Linked DNA regions of Homo sapiens: region 1 is linked to region 2. Evidence: fine-mapped expression QTL. A gene starts in region 2. The other region holds a variant in brackets. All regions are shown on one strand. Distances are between the middles of the regions.

The links.
Region 1: its variant is fine-mapped to the expression of PGGT1B in whole blood (TOPMed, PIP above 0.99).

Annotation. Positions count from the first base shown.
Region 1 is chr5:115,209,924-115,218,263 of GRCh38, reverse strand. It overlaps PGGT1B (protein geranylgeranyltransferase type I subunit beta), which reads left to right. Exons shown (of 9, transcript NM_005023.4): 8 at 1,291-1,399; 9 at 5,681-8,340. The coding sequence ends at 5,862. Among named protein-coding and RNA genes, the nearest start is that of TRIM36, 44 kb to the right of the region's middle. The variant A/G (reference allele first, on the strand shown) is at 4,874.
Region 2 is chr5:115,259,211-115,267,550 of GRCh38, reverse strand. It overlaps PGGT1B (protein geranylgeranyltransferase type I subunit beta), which reads left to right and starts at 4,674. Exons shown (of 9, transcript NM_005023.4): 1 at 4,674-4,839. The coding sequence starts at 4,700. CCDC112 (coiled-coil domain containing 112) reads left to right here. Exons shown (of 10, transcript NM_001040440.3): 10 at 1-361. It also overlaps the pseudogene RPS2P26. RefSeq lists enhancers at 4,556-4,605, 4,636-4,815.

The sequences.
Region 1 (8,340 bases), 49 kb after region 2:
AAATGTTTTAATTCTTGTGGACATTACCATAACTTTAAATCACAGACTGACTTCTTATCACCTTTAGACATTATTGATGATTCCCAACTATGAGAAATTAAGATTTAGCCTCTCACTTTTCCAACAAATTGTTACCCGTTATAGTTAGTTCTGAATATTTTCCTCATCTTCTACCTTCCAATGCTATATAAGGTTACCTTTATTTTTATAATGTTAAGTTAGGACACATTCATATATTTGTTCAATATTAATAATCACATCTTTCAGCCTTTGCCTATAGGTTGATTCTAAAATTTAAAAACCAGTAATCAACACTTATTATGGGATAGTGAAAATATTGTTTATTGCTAAGCCAAGTGCAGTGTTACTATTATAATTTTTTCATTTTTATGTAATGACCAGTGTGCCACTGATGGAAAATATTCCTAACATCAAGATTCAAAAAAGTCTTTTTCCTTATATTTTATTAATTAAATCAATGTAAATGAATAAATTTGTTTCCTGTTTGTACCATAACTTTCTTATGAGTTTAGCTTTTCTTTTTGAGAAATAATGCTTCTTCATTAGTCACTAAAAGCTGTGGCTCTCTCTGGTTCATTAACATATATTAAATTGCTTTGTATCATCAGAAATGTCTTGAACCCTCTTACCTACTGTGCACCTCATCTTGAACTTCACAGTATTATTTATTTATTTGTATTTTACTTTTATGGGGTCTTGAGAGAAAAGCCAAGTACATGTCCTAAATCATTAAAAACTATATAGTTTTTTATGTTGCAATCATTTTTGTCTTACCTTTTTCTTTCCTAATTAAAGAGCTATACTTTTTTACTATTTTCAAAACTGTCTGTAGCATCTGGTTAGTAATTTTTGTTTGCTCTTTTTTTAAAAAATATTTTTAATTCCAGTTACTACTAGTTTATAACTAATAGCTCAAGAGCTTATCATAAGAGTTAAAATATGGGTAGATAAAATTGTACTTTTTAAAATGACTGATTATGTTGAGTGGATTCGAGTTGTCTTTTGAATTTAGCTTAATGTGATTTAAAGGGTTCAGTTGGCCTGGTTCAGAAGAAGGAAATAGAGAGTCGAGAAAAGGAGAGTAGATTTGATAAGAAAATTAAAAAGTTAATGTGATTTACTCATTTCAAAAGTGCTCAAGGCCCCAGAGACTTGGTCTGAGCACCTTAGCTAAAGAAAAGCATATCTAAATGACACGTATCTGAAATTTGAGCCAAAGGTTGATATGAGTTTTATGTCAGTAAATTTTTATTTGTCATGTCATTTCAGCTTCTAAAAATTTTCCAATACACTAACTTTGAGAAAAATAGAAATTACATCTTATCAACTCAAGATCGCCTTGTAGGGGGATTTGCCAAGTGGCCAGACAGTCATCCAGGTAATTATTTTCTTTGTGAATCAGAACAACCTTTATTTCCTGAATAGATCTTCAAGCATCTTTATCAGAAAAGGCATATGATAGAAAATATATCCAGTTGCAAAGTTACATTAAATAATATTTTTTAAAAGGTATATTGTGTAAGCTTAGGATAAATTTAGGGTATTAGAGAGTATAAATGAAAGAGTTTATTATCAAGATGCATGGGAATAGTGTGCATTTTTTCCCAAATATTTTACTTAGTAATGTTTTATTTCATTTGCAGCAATAATGTAGATGGTCTGAATGGGTCCTTTCCAAAGAAGAGAATTATTTAGGCCATCCAAAGCCGTTAGGATTATTAGTCATGACTTGAACTAAGTATAATAAATTACTCCCAATCCTGAAGGGAATCAGTTCTTACTCTTTTCAGAAGTCATTAAATAGGCCGGGCACAGTGGCTCATGCCTGTAACCCCAACACTTTGGGAGGTCAAGGCAGGTGGATCACTTGAGGTCAGGAGTTCAAGACCAGCCTGGCCAACGTGTTGAAACCCCGACTCTACTAAAAATACAAAAATCAGCCAGGTGTGGTGATGCGTGCCTGTAGTCCCAGCTATGCGGGAGTCTGAGGCAGGAGAGTCACTTAAACCCAGGAAGCAGAGGTTCCAGTGAGCCGAGATTGCACCACTGCCCTCCAGCCTGTGTGACAGAGCGAGACTCTTTGTCTCAAAAAAAAAAGTCATTAAATAAAATATTTCAAATCCTGAATATATGTGTTTCTCACTTCCCATACTCTTGTTCTCCAAATTTCAACAGATTCAGACAATATAAATGGCATGGCACTCAAGGCCCTTCCAAAATTTGGCTCCTCTCCCACCTCTAGCATCATTCTGCAGCCTACACCTCACCCGACATATGTTTTCACCTCCAGCAAAATGAGTCTATATACAGCTTCCCTATAAAAATCCATTTAAGTGTGTTTTGAAATAATTTCAAACACTGACACTTTTGATAAGCAAGTAGTTAAAGAATTAGTTACAAATATGAAACTAGACACAAGGAATGATTGTTTTTGCCAGTATTGCAATAGAGTCGTGGTTTTTATTATCAGCCTGGAAAGTGCCTCATCAACTCATCTTCCATCACAGAACTGCTGTGGTTGGAATGTGTGATTGAATCAGAATATAAATAAGGAGCTCATGAAATCAATTTTTGTATTTGAAATGAGCAGGAATATTTCCTTACACCCCTACTTGCCTATATTTTCATATAAAACATGCTTCCTAGGCCAGGAGTTTTGGCTCACGCCTGTAATCCCAACAGTTTGGGAGGCTGAGGTGGGCGGATCACTTGAGGCAAGGAGTTTGAGACTAGCCTGGCCACATGGTGAAACATTGCCTCTACTAAAAATACAATAATTAGCCAGGCGTGGTGGTGGGTGCCTGTAATCCCAACTACTTGGGAGGCTGGGGCAGAAGAATTGCCTGAACCTGGGAGGCAGAGGTTGCAGTGAGCCAAGGTCACACCACTGCACTCCAGCCTGGGCAACAGAGCAAGAGTACATCTCAAAAAATAAAATAAAATAAATGGCCGGGTGCAGTGGCTCACGCCTGTAATCCCAGCTTTGGGAGGCTGATGCTGGTGAATCACTTGAAGTCAGGAGTTGAAGACCAGCCTGGTCAATATGGCGAGACCCCGTCTCTACCAAAAATACAAAAATAGCCAGGCATGGTGGTGCACACCTGTAGTCCCAGCTACTCAGGAGGCTGAGGCAGGAGAATTGCTTGAACCCAGGAGGTGGAGGTTGCAGTGAGCCAAGATCTCACCATTGCACTCCAGCCTGGGCGACAGAGCGAGACTCTGTCTCAATCAATCAATCAGTAGTAAAACATGTCTTCTTAGAGAAAGTGTACATTGCTTTCAAAGTCGTAAGCCAAAGTGTGTCTTCAGAAGTTAATTTCTCAAGCAAAATAATATCTTGAAATTTTTGATATCTCTAGTGCCTCAAAACTGAGAATTATTTTGGTCTTCATTCCATTTTTTAAACCAGTGCAGGGTACTGTTTTAACAAATAATGGGAGTAGGGAAATGACAGTCTCTTAGGAAACATTTCTTGTATAAACATACTTGAAATACATTCAGTGTTTCCAATAGCTTTTTTAAAAGAAAGTTCTTGAGGCTTTTTCCGGAGAGTTCAGTTGCTAACTTTAACATTTGTGTAAATATTTGGATGTACTACTTACTTTTTACAGATACATTACAATGTTTTCAGAGTATGCAATAGAAAGCATAGAAGGGCTTTGCTAAATTGAATTTATGTGTAAAGATCTGGTCCCAGAATCTTTAATCATTTTAACAAGATTCTTTAAAATTAAGCTTATTCTTCATTCTAGTGAATTTAGTGGCAAATTTGATACAAAGGGATTTTATATACATTTATGAAAGAAACTTCAAAAGAATAACCTTTTATTGTGGAGTAAATATATATTTCAACATCTAAAGTGCTTTATTATGGAGTAAACATATAGTTCCACATCTAAAGTGCTTGTACGTTGCCACTTACAGATAAGGAGTTTTTTTAAAAACACAATTTGAGGCTTCAAACAATTGAGTTCTGATCTCATTGGCTGTTACAAAAATCTTTTTGAGAAACAAATAAGTTTTATTTGTTACTTTACCCAGAGAGATTTTAGTTTTACACAGTTCTATTTTATGTTATTATAGATATATATTTTCTGTTGTACTTTTTCCTAGAAAAGTTTCCTAGTTTCTAGAAAACAAAGCTTAATGTTGCTTTGTACCCTTTGTAGTTTTAGAATAACTATATGGATGTAATATGACAGGTGAAATCAAGTTTATTTTTTATAGTCTGAAAGTCAAAGGAAAGTGAGCCAGAAGAAACCTAAGTATTTTCTGAAAAGGCCTAAAAGGTGATCAACATGGGCCTCCATTAGTTAAATAACATTTTCACAATGGCATTGAGTAAGCACAGCTATTTGTCATTTCTGTTTTGAAAAATAAGTGATACTGTTGTAAGTAAAGCTTTTTCTTTAACTCTTTTGACAAAGTTTGATGTGGTAAGATGTGTTGAACTTTTTGTTGTTGTTGTTTTGAGACAGGGTTTCATTATTTTGCCCAGGCTAGAGTGCAGTGATATAATCATGCCTCACTGCAGCCTCAACCTCCCTAGGCTCAGGTGAGCCTCCCACCTCAGCCTCCCGAGTAGCCGGAACTACAGGCGCACGCCACCATACCTGGTAATTTTTGTATTTTTTGTAGAGATGGAGCTTCACCGTATTGCCCAGGCTGGTATCGAACTCCTGTGGCTCAAGGAATATGCCCTTCTCGGCCTCCCAAAGTGCTGGGATTACAGGTGTGAGCCACCACACCCAGCCTGTTTTGAACTTTAATAGCTCTTAAGGCCATAAATGTCGGCCAATTCAAAAATAGAAAAAAATTTTGACTGGTACAAAACTGTCTTTTTAATGTTCCT[A/G]TAACTGCAAAGCTCTGAGCTCTTCAGAAGTCTACATAAGACTCCTAGGCAGGAATGGCCATGTGATTTCATTGGCCACTTTAATAGAAGAGGATCGCTGCCCCCTGAAAGATGGGAAACTAGTGAGCCAGTGCAGAATTGTCATGGTATGAGCACTCATATTATTTCAACCAAATAGAATGTGAGTTTGTTTTTATTGTCAGATCAGATATTTTTACAATGACTGACATTACCCTAAATAGGAGGATTAAATATGGCACAGCATTCCAGAATGGATTATTTTTGCATAAGCTCCTTTTATTTAACACAATGTTAGGATAGTACTGCATATGGTTTAGGAACTTTCAGAGGTAAAACGTGGAGCGAGGGATATTGCAACTTAGATTCAGAGTTTTGTTTTCGTTTTAAAGAAAAAAAAACTTAATGATATAGCATTGAAGCTACTCGTTTTCATGTTCTCTAGTAAGCAAGAGGGGAAACTCCCCAAAGTGAGAAGTCTTACATATGACTGCTGCTACTCCTGTCTTTTAATCACAGAGGTTATGGACAGTATCAGCTCTTCAGCTGGAAACTGTTTTCCTTTGTTAATGATATTTTCATGAATAAAATATTTTATTTTGATCATCTGAGTTTTTTTTTTAATTGGTGTTTGAGGCTTTGAGAAAGCAAATATTTTTAAAACTATATTAGCATTTCTCTAAACTTACTTTTAATGGAGTGATGGGCTGGTAAATATGTGGCTAAAATATTCTGTAGAATGTACAAGTAAGAATGCCTATTATGATGTTTTAAATGCCTTCTTTTCAGATGCTTTGCATGCATACTTTGGGATCTGTGGCCTGTCACTAATGGAGGAAAGTGGAATTTGTAAAGTTCATCCTGCTCTGAATGTAAGCACACGGACTTCTGAACGCCTTCTAGATCTCCATCAAAGCTGGAAAACCAAGGACTCTAAACAATGCTCAGAGAATGTACATATCTCCACATGACTGATTTTAGATTGGGAGGGTGGGGGGATTTGTAGCATAACTGTAGCTCAAGTTTAAAAGCCATGTATAACCAAGTGTGCTCTTTTTTTAAAAGGTAGAGTCTTACAATCAAATCTCCTGCTGATTTCACTTTGGGATATGGTCTTGAGCCAGTAATCTTTATACTGGGTTTCAAGAAAATCTTTGTTGAAGTTTGAACCACAACTTTGTCGTGGTTCTTAAATGTTTATACTGTATTTCTAAGAAGTTGTTTGAGGCAAATTAACTGTATGTGTGTAGGTTATCTTTTTAAAAACTCTTCAGTGCAAATTGTATCTTATTATAAAATGGACACAAATTTTCAAGTTTACACTTCATATAGCATTGATAATCTTCAGGTGAACACTTAGTGATCATTTAAAAAGCTCACTGCTGATCGTAGAAAATTTGCTTTAATTAATTAAGTATCTGGGATTATTCTTTGAAAACAGATGACCATAATTTTTTTTAAAGAAGAGTGACTTATTTTGTCTTATTCTTAAGTAAAGTGTGCCAATTAAACCTGTGTGGCCTATATAAATGAAGTTAATAACTTCATAGTAAGAATAAATAGGTTTAACTAATGTGATAGTTTTCTAAAAGGAGATTGTTTGAAGACAACTATTATGTAACTGAGGGAAAAGCAACTTAACTGTATGTGATTGTGAATGAGAAAGTTTTGTGCTATGTGGGTCATTTATCTAGACATTGCTGTGGTGAATACCAGTTATGTTTGATTTTATTCTCAAATCATTAGTTGCCTTTTTTTTTTTTTTTTTTTTTTTGCTTTCTAGGAAGAAAACAATCTTTTTTATCTAGAAGGAAAGATACTTTGTGTTTTCATTTTTAGCCATTTGAAGTTTTTAATTTATTGCCCCCAGTGTGTTAGCTGCTCTAATTTCAAACTAATACTTTTCTAATTTTTTTCAAATTAAATAAGTAAAAAATACAAAAACAGAACCATTCAAACAGATTCAGTGGTGTAACTCAATACATGGTCATTTTTATTCTCATATTTTCAGGTAAGTGAAAGGGAAATGCGACCATTTAGAGGGTAAGAAATAGGGTTTTGTTTTTGTTCATTGTTTTGTTTTAAGTCTATGAACTAGCTAATTATAAAGGAGGTAGTATAAAAACTCTTCATTAGTAATTAATTTATCAATAACTCATATCCGTTACTTGCTCAGTGACATTCAGAACTATTGCGTCTAGTACTGAAATGGGGAAAGAAATCTCTTCACTAAAGGAGTTGGCTTTAAGTTAGTCTTGGTGATAATAAATGTTGAAATACAAGTATCAGTATAAAAACTGGATTACTGGTATCACTGTTTAGGCATTGTAATACTTTAAATGTTATCTTTTTTTCTAAATCAGAGGGAAAAAAATGTTGTGAAATAACAGTCCTTCCCAAGGGAAACACTGTGTACTTGGAGAAATGATTGATTTATTATTGGCATGCTTAGTTTTAAACCTGAGTTTGCCAACTGTATGTTTTTTAATTAGAAATAAAATAAATCTTCTGATGGTGGGGGAAAAAGTAAGCTTAATAACAGATGTTATCCGTCTATGGGTTATTCCAGTTGCTACTATTTAAATCCTGGCAGATTAAGACATCCATATCTCAAACTAAGTCATCTCTTAGACATTGGAAGTTAAAGTAGCATATATATAATGGCTTTAGGACTATATAAAAAGCCCAAATTGTTTTTTCTGTATCACCAAGAAAGGTTAGAAGGCAATAAAGGTAGTAACAGTGATTTTATTCATAAATGTTAGAGAAAAATTCCAATCTAAAAGTATTTCATAAGGCTAAATATTTTCTAACTCCTGATAATTTAATACCATAAGATTATAAATTTTAGTATGCTTCTAATTGATACACTTGTGGGAGACTTTCTTGTGAAACTTTATGGACTAGTAAATGTTCACATTCCACAGCAACTGAATTGACCAGAAAATAGCAGCCCAGTGTGAATTGTGGAGAAACTATTTCTAACTTTTCTAAATAGTTATTTACAAGAAAAGCATTTATCGATTAAATAAATTATAAGCAATATTTCACATATACACTTTATTCCTTAACAGGAGCGATGTAATGAGGGAAAATACGAAGTCCGAAATCTCAAAAAGCTCTGTTACCTACTCTATACTTGTCTCCTTCCCGCCCCCTAATTTTGTGGCATTTTTTTTTTAGAAGGTAGGAGGAGGAGCTTTATTTTGAGCATCTGTGTACAAATGAGATTAATCAGATCATATGGCCTAATTTAACCTGTTTATCATTTCAGTGTTTTTAGATTTGATCTATAATATATATGTGTTATTAGATCTTTAGTTATTTATATTTAATCTAAATTCATATAGAAATCTTGCTGACAGTGGTATATAATTTGAAAACTGTTGGACCTGATCATTTTTGAGAGACAGTTAATGAGGAGGTGCTCTGGAATCAGATGACCTGGG
Region 2 (8,340 bases):
ACAATCATACAATGACATTTTTTAAACCAAAATTTTGTAACTTTTATAACTTGGAGTTAAGTTAGCTTGAGTAACAAAAAGGTAAAGTGGTTTTTGTTTAGAGTTACGAAATGTTAGTACTTTTTCTATGTTTAACAAATTGGCAGTTTGTCAGTTATGACATTTTTGTGTAATAAATATTTTGTATTTGTTTGAAGCATGCTTTGTTTTATATAGAGAATATTTATTTTAAAAATATGTCTCTCATATACCCTATTAATTGTATTATTGATATAATCTTTTTGGTTTCCTTCAGCAATTCCAAATTTTCCTTCAGCCTTTCTGGATTTCACAGATTTATAAAATCTTTGTGTCTTTCACATCTTCCTGGCTAATGCAGTTTTCTTTTCTGCTTCTGTTTGCCTCAAAATAGGAAAATTCTTTGTTCTGAAACATCATCTGAAATAAGCCAGCTTTAAAATACTGTGATTTCTCTTGATGGCACTTAAAATGTTTTAGGTGGGGCATGGTGGCTCATGCTTGTAATCCCAGCACTTTCAGAGGTCAAGGTAGGAGAATTGAGGCCTGGAGTTTGACACTAGCCTGGGCAACACAGGGAGACCCTGTCTCTACAGAAAAAAAAAAAAAAAGTTTAATTAACTGGGTATGGTGGCACACACCTGTAGTCCCAGCTACTTGGGAGGATAAGGTGGGAGGATCACTTGAACCCAGGAGTTCCAGGTTGCAGTGAGCTACGATGGCACCACTCTACTCCAGCCTGGGTGAGAGAGAGACCCTGTCTCTAAAATGAATGAATGAAGGAATGAATGAATAAGATCTTTTAAAGCTGTTAGATTAACATATTTGGGCAAGAGTTAGTTCTTAAATTTCTAAACTTTTAGACATGAAAACACAATGTAATTGAATACAGTTCAACTTTTCATATTATAAAATATTCCTTTCTAACGTTATTTAATTTGTTCTCATAGGAAAGATACTATATACATAAAAACACAGGAAATTTATCTCTTATAAATCTTTTTTTATCTTAATCTTTCATTGTTTATCTTTATCTTTCATTGTTAATGGGATGCATTTAGGTTAAATGACTCAGTTAGAAAGGTACTATGAGTAGCGGTGAAAATCTTTTCTTATTTTACAGTTAATATTCAAAATAGATGGCTTCCAAATTTTAGAAACTGAATTCTGATTTGTACAGTTATTGGTGCAGAATGAGAAAATTGACATAAAAGATCCTTAAACAGGAGTGCTGATTTTGTTATCCAAAACTTTTTTGTAATGATTTGAAGTAGTTCAGAGATAAAATATAGAGGCTGGGTGCAGTGGCTCAGGCTTGTAATCCCAGCACTTTGGGAGGCCAAGGTGGGCGTATCACTTGAGGTCAGGAATTCAAGACCAGCCTGGCCAACATGGTAAAACCCCATCTCTACTAAAAATACAAAAATTAGCCTGGTGTGGTAGTTCACGCCTGTACTCCCAGCTACTTGGGAGGCTGAGGCAGGAGAATCGCTTGAACCCGGGAGGCGGAGGTTGCAGTGAGCTGAGATTGTGCCACTGTACTCCAGCCTGGGCAACAGAGTGAGACTCCATCTCAAAAAATAAATACATAAATAAAACACAGAGCAAGATGAGGAAATTAAAAGCAGAACTGAGAAGCTACAAGATACAGAAAATGTTTCTTACATATTGCTTTTTTACGTGTTGCTTTTTGTTGCACCGAAATGCAGCTTTCAAATTCCTGTATCCAAGGTAAGCATTCTGGATGATGTGATTCTTATGGCTTTGTTTTTTTATTTTTTTTTTAAATAAAGAAAAGTATGGAAGTTCCTCTGAAGAAATCAGTTTTTCTAGCTGAATCTGAAATAAATGATGAATTTATTATATAGATCCTTTATATAAAAGATGTAAGATAAACAAATATCTTCAGTTACAGACTTCATAGAAGTTACAGGTTCATAAACAAGATGTCAAATAAATATTTCTTATACTGGTTTAAAAAGTACATTAGCTTTTTCTCTGAGAAAACACCAAATCGCGGATGATGCCGGTGCAGCGGGGGACCTGGGAGGCCCGGAGGCCCGGGGGGCTCTGGGATGGGGAACTGGGGTCTCAGCCGGCCCTGGGATGGGGAACTCGTGTCGCGGCCATGGACGGGGCCGGGGCCAGCTGCAGAGCTCGTGGAGGCAAGACCAAGGACAAGGAGTAGATGGTTGTCACCAAGCTGGGCTGCCTGGTCAAGGACATGAAGATTAAGTCCCTGGAGTAGATCTATCTCTTCTCTCTGCCCATCAAGGAGTCTGTGATCATTGACTTTTTCCTGGGGCCTCTCTCAAGAAGGAGGTTTTGAAGACGTGCCAGTGCAGAAGCAGACCTGCACCGGCCAGAACACCAGGTTCAAGGCGTTTGTTGCCATCAGGGACAGTGGCCACACTGATCTGGGTGTTAAGTGCTCCAAGGAGGTGGCCACTGCCATCTGCGGGGCCATCATCCTGGCCAAGCTCTCCGTTGTGCCCATGCGCAGAGGCTACTGGGGGAACAAGATCGGCAAGCCCCACACCATCCCTTGCAAGGTGACAGGCTGCCACGGCTCTGTGCTGGCGCGGGTCATCCCTGCGCCCAGGAGCACTGGCATCGTCTCGGCCCCCATGGCCAAGAAGCTGCTGCTGATGGCAGCTATCAATGACTGCTACACCTCAGCCAGGGGCTGCACTGCCATCCTGGGCAACTTCGTCATGGTCATTTTTTATGCCATCTCTAAGGTCTACAGCAGGCTGAACCCTGACCTCTGGAAGGAGACTGTATTCACCAAGTCTCCCTATCAGGAATTCACTGACCACCTCCTCAAGACCCACACCAGAGTCTCCGTGCAGAGGACCCAGGCTCCAGCGGTGGCTACAACATCGGGTTGTACAAGAAAAATAAAATGAAGTAAGCCTGGAAACAAAAAAACTACATTAATAAGAAACATAGAAAAAACACTAAAGAAGAAATGTTATAAAGTACCCATAATTCCAGGGTAACTTTTTCAAAAAACATACCTACATATTTTTAAATTGTTACAGTCATACAGTACATATTAATTACTATGCTATAATTGCATTACACATTTTCGTACATTTCTACCTAATTCAAACATTATCATGTAATGGCTAAATAACACTCAATTATATAGATGTTCTATCATTCCCATTCTGTTATGCACATGCCAAAAATCTTGTAGGGATAAAATCACTCATGGAAAGCCTTTTACCGACCTAGGAGGCATTCTGTATTATCTCTGAATGAGTCCCACATTGCAAATTTTTCCTCTAGATTTGGATCAGATTGCTAGTCCTTGAGCTGAGAATCAGATGAAACATTTGGCTTCCCTAACTTAAGGGCCATGTTTATTAGAATTAATTTTCTGAGAATGTATAGAGTGTCCATAGCTGATTCCAGTAAGTTAAATGTGTATAAGACTCCACTTTAAAAATCTTCAGGCATTTGGGGGTATGTGTGCTAAGTGAGAGATCTTAATTTTAATAACAGTGGAAACTCCAGACTGGGCACACCTGAAGGGCAAGGACTGTGAGCTCCGTATTTGTAGGGAAGTACCGAGGACAGCCTAGAATCCGTCTGTGGCTGTTAAATGCGGCATTTTGTAAAGACATGCAGGAATACCTGTGAATAAGTAGTTAATAGTACCAAAAATTATTCAGAGCACTTTGGATTGTTGAATAAGTGTAAGATTACCCCAGCCCATAGAGTATAAGAATTACATTTTCTAAGAAAGCTAACAAAATTAAACCCAAAATTTTATTAGCTAAGTTGATCACAGGGAACCTAGTTTAGTTATATTATTGGGTGGATCCCCCCACCCGCTACTCAGGAATGCCTCATGAAAGTTTAAAGGGCATAGTATACCGGCTAAACAACTTAAATCCCTATTTTTGGAAAAAAGAACTAGAAGCATGTTTAAATTTTTTAGAATGCAGGTAATTGGAGAAGATATTGAGCTTATTTTGCTGTTGCAGATTGATGCACCATTGATTCTTGATAACACGTCGACTCAAGCAAAGTAAAATCTGTAAGATTTGTAAAAGAATGACGCAAGCAGTCATATATAGGTATGAATATGCATGTTGTATATGTTTGGGGGCATTATACACAGATTTTTAAGTGATTCCTGGTATCCAGAAAGGATTAAGATTAGGAAAGTCTCTGAGCTTTTGTAGTGTCAATAAACATTTATCTCCACTGGTTTGTTTTTCTGTTTCCCTAACCGTTCGGCTTAAAACTGGCCCTCCAAAAATGAATCTGTTAGCAAGTTTATACTGATCCATCCTCGTTTTCAGATATACCATCCTCAGGTTCTACAGAGCCAGAATTGTCTCAAAGCGTACTTGATGCTTTTGACCTTGCGCTTCCCAAGATAAAAATTCTGACGGAGGGATTTGTGGACTTGATTTTCACAAGGCCTGCGAGGTGTTTACAAGCCTCGAGGGCTTTGAGTAGAAAAGGTAGGGTCATGCGCTAGCTAGGGAGATATCGGAGAGAGGAAGTGCTGCACAGGACCCAGATGATAGCGGTTTCAAATACTGGCTTAGTCTGCGGCGGGCGCAGGTCCCCTCACCCGGCACCCTGTGGTTCAGCACAGGAGGGTTCTTTCTCTCCGCGGGCACTGATTCCGGGTCGCGGCGGACGTCGCTTCCGGAGCAGCATGGCGGCCACTGAGGATGAGAGGCTAGCAGGGAGCGGTGAGGGAGAGCGGCTGGATTTCTTACGGGATCGGCACGTGCGATTTTTCCAGCGCTGCCTCCAGGTTTTGCCGGAGCGCTATTCTTCACTCGAGACAAGCAGGTAACTCGTGGCACAGTCAGCCAGGCTGGCACAAGGCCCGGGCTCCAGCGGAAAGGCGCGGCGGAGTCGGACCGCAAACTGGGCGCCGGAAGGGGGCTGCGCGGCCGCCCAGTTGGCACTGACTGGTTTCAAGTGGGCTTGAGGTTACCCCCACTCTCCCGCCGTACGGTGGGAAGGTCTGGAAGGCTGTAGGTCGAGGGCTGTGGCATCTCCAGTTTCCGGCTTTTTCACTTCCCTTTTCTTCTGGCAACTCTGAGCTGCTTTTTTACCCGCTCCCATAGCCTGTCACTTTGCCTCATTACTTCCGAGTGTAAAAGGAAAAGGACAAAGTTTGTCGTCGTATTTTTAGATGAATACTTCTGTGCATCCTTGTCCTCTCTAAAGTCATTAACTCTTAATAGAGTGTCTGTATGGTGTTTTATGTGTAGGAGCGGCAGAGAACCTCTAAGGTCTTAGAAACTTTGTGGGAACTATAAATCTAATGGTAGGCGAAAGAGGTGTGGTGTTGCGTGAAGCAGCCTGTTAAAAGTATCGCAATAGCTGAAGAGTGTGGTGCGGCAGAGACTAAGCGACTTCATTTACAGTAAAAGCTGGGGATGAGAAGAAAGAAAGGAGAAGGCAATCTTTGCTCCGCATTGCTGTGTTTTGAAGTGAAGCTCAAAAGCTGCTTGAGACTGGATGGGAGGAAAGAGCGGCTTGTTTTTGCTGTGTTCTTTCCCCACGTTTTCCAAATTCTGAGTTGCTGGTGTATTTTGAACACTGCATGACCGGATCAGTTTGGGGAGCTTTGCAGATTACTTCTGCACACTTGGTCAAGAACCACATTATGGTAGGTGCCAGAGTACAGCTGAACAAGACAAGCATTTGTATAGAGTTCTGTGCTATATGTTAGTGTAGTGTTCATAGGAGTATATAGACAGGCATGTACATAATCCAGATATCTTTAGAGAGGCCTTCCTTAAACACCCTTCCTAAAGGGACCACTTCCAATGACCACCTCACATTACGTATGTATTGGTTTATTTGTTTAATGTCTTTCTATTACACTGGATTATAAACTTCACAAAGGTAACATTTTCGTCTATCTTGTTTACCTCTATACTTAGGACTGGGCTGCCCTGTCCAATCTGGTAGCCACTAGCCACATTTGGCTATTTTGATTTGAATTAATTAAATCAAATTAAAAATTAAGTGATTCTTTTGGTAGTAGCCACCACATTTCAAGTACCCAGTTGCCATATTGGCCAGTGGCAATTGTTTCTATTTCAACATTTGCAACAGCTTAGTCCTTTTGGTCAACATTGCACTAGGACCTTAAATAGTACCTGGTATCTGAGAAGCACTAAGAAATATTTGTTGAATAATGTGAGCTGAGCCCTGAAGGATGAACAGATTCTCACAAAAGAAAGAGTGAAACGTTTATATTCCTTCCTCCTCTCATAGGTGTTGATCGATTAGCAGAGCCTATACCTTCACTGAAAGATTCAGATTTCCAAACCGAAAGGTTATGATTGTAGTGATATGAGATGTTTTAAAATGTTGATAAATTGTTTATATCTTAATAGGGATTAATTTTATGTGAATTCAAAGCTTTTAGATAAAAAGTCTTCCATCCTGTTTTTGTTATTGATACATAATGTGCATATTTATCGTATACATACACTGCTTAGATAGATGCAGTGTATAAGTCCTGTGAGCTGATTAAATTGTGATTGTTAAACAGTTGAACTTTGCTTGCAGCTATCACTATAAGTCTGTGATTTAATTTTCAAAATGCCAATGTGTTTGGCCTGTTTTATAAAATTCCAGCTTGGACAAATCCATATAGAATAATGCACATTGGCATTAAACTGTGTAATTCTGTTCACAGCATAAGTAAAACAGCACAAATTTTCTGACTTATTTAACTTTAGTATGAGCATAGGATCGACACCAGGTGTTATATAACACCTTGGTGCATTGGTTAAGCAATATTGTATCCTTTTTTGTCTAATGTTTGTCATATGAATAGAATTTTTACATCATTTTGGTTTTCTTATAGCCTAGTTAACCGCATTTAAGATAACTGCATATGTCAGTTTCTGTAGTGATTTTAAGTTTTTCTCTTTCCTAACTCACAGACTTTATTTTCTTTAGCACTAAGTTCTTTTGTGGTGCATGTGATTCATAACTGACTTTAAAATGCTTGTGAAGAAACTCCAACCTTTTCAGCAAAGGTGACCGGTCACAAAGTTTCTGCTGATCTTTAAGACAAAACAGTACATTGGGCAAGCCACAACTCTTACCTGGTATTGCAGTTAAATTCCACAGTCATTCATAGAGTGCCTCCCCATGTGTCTAGGTACAGGTATACAGTGTTAAACTAATGATTCAGGTGTTCCTCTGTTCGTTTCTTTTTACCAATAGGTATGAAAAAGCTTTGAGAAGGCTAATATTAGACTGGATATTTAGACACTTATTTTCAGATTCACCATTTTGGCAAAATTACTCTTATTTTCTTGTTTCTTTTAGCCTGACCAATAGGAATAATTTTTACTTTTCTAGTGACAATGACTTTATGAAAATAAAGAGTGTATTGTCTGCGGTTTCATCAGAGATTTTTCTTTTATATTGACTTCTTAAAATGATAGTTACTAGTTTATAATCCAAGTGAATATTAAATCTTGGGTTGGGAGCTTTATCAATTACCAGGTTTCTTTTATAAGTAGTTTAGGGAGTTTAGTGTGGTTATGAGTTATTCTTGCCATTTGTATTTGGGTAATAGGAATTAGAGTAGTCCTTTTTATTAAGGAACAAAGTAGTGACAATTTTCTGTTATTTTTACAGTCACCTCTTCTAGAAGAAGGGTTTAGGCAGTTAGCTTTTATTTCACAAAGCATTTACAATCTAGCTAGTCTTTGTATTCTCATGTCCCTCTATTTTCCCCTGTGTATCCTGTGTTGTAACCTCTCTCCTGCCTCCCATTCTGCAACTACTTTGTTCTTTCGTTTCCTCCCTTATCTTTTTTTTTTTTTTTTTTTTTTTTTGAGACAGTCTCACTCTGTCACCAGGCTGGAGTGCGGTGGCACCATCTCTCCTCACTGCAGCCTCCGCCTCCTGGGTTCAAGCGATTCTCCTGCCTCAGCCTCTCAAGTAGCTGGGACTACAGGTGTGTGCCACCACGCTCAGCTAATTTTTTGTATTTTTAGTAGAGATGCGGTTTCACCATGTTGGCCAGGATGGTCTTGGTCTCTTGGCCTTGTGATCCGCCCGCCTCGGCCTCCCAAAGTGCTGGGATTACAGGCGTGAGCCACCGTGCCCGGCCCCCTTATCTTAAATATATCACAGTCTAGCAGTACATCTTTCAAAGTGTAGTGGTGGGAGACTCTAAGTAATGGCTTGTATGTGCTTTCAAAAATGCACATACCTGGGCCCCTTCCCAGACCTTCATTGGATTCTGTGTGGGCCTTGGGAGTCTGCATTATAACACGCATCTCAGGTGGTTCTAAAGCAGGCTAAAGT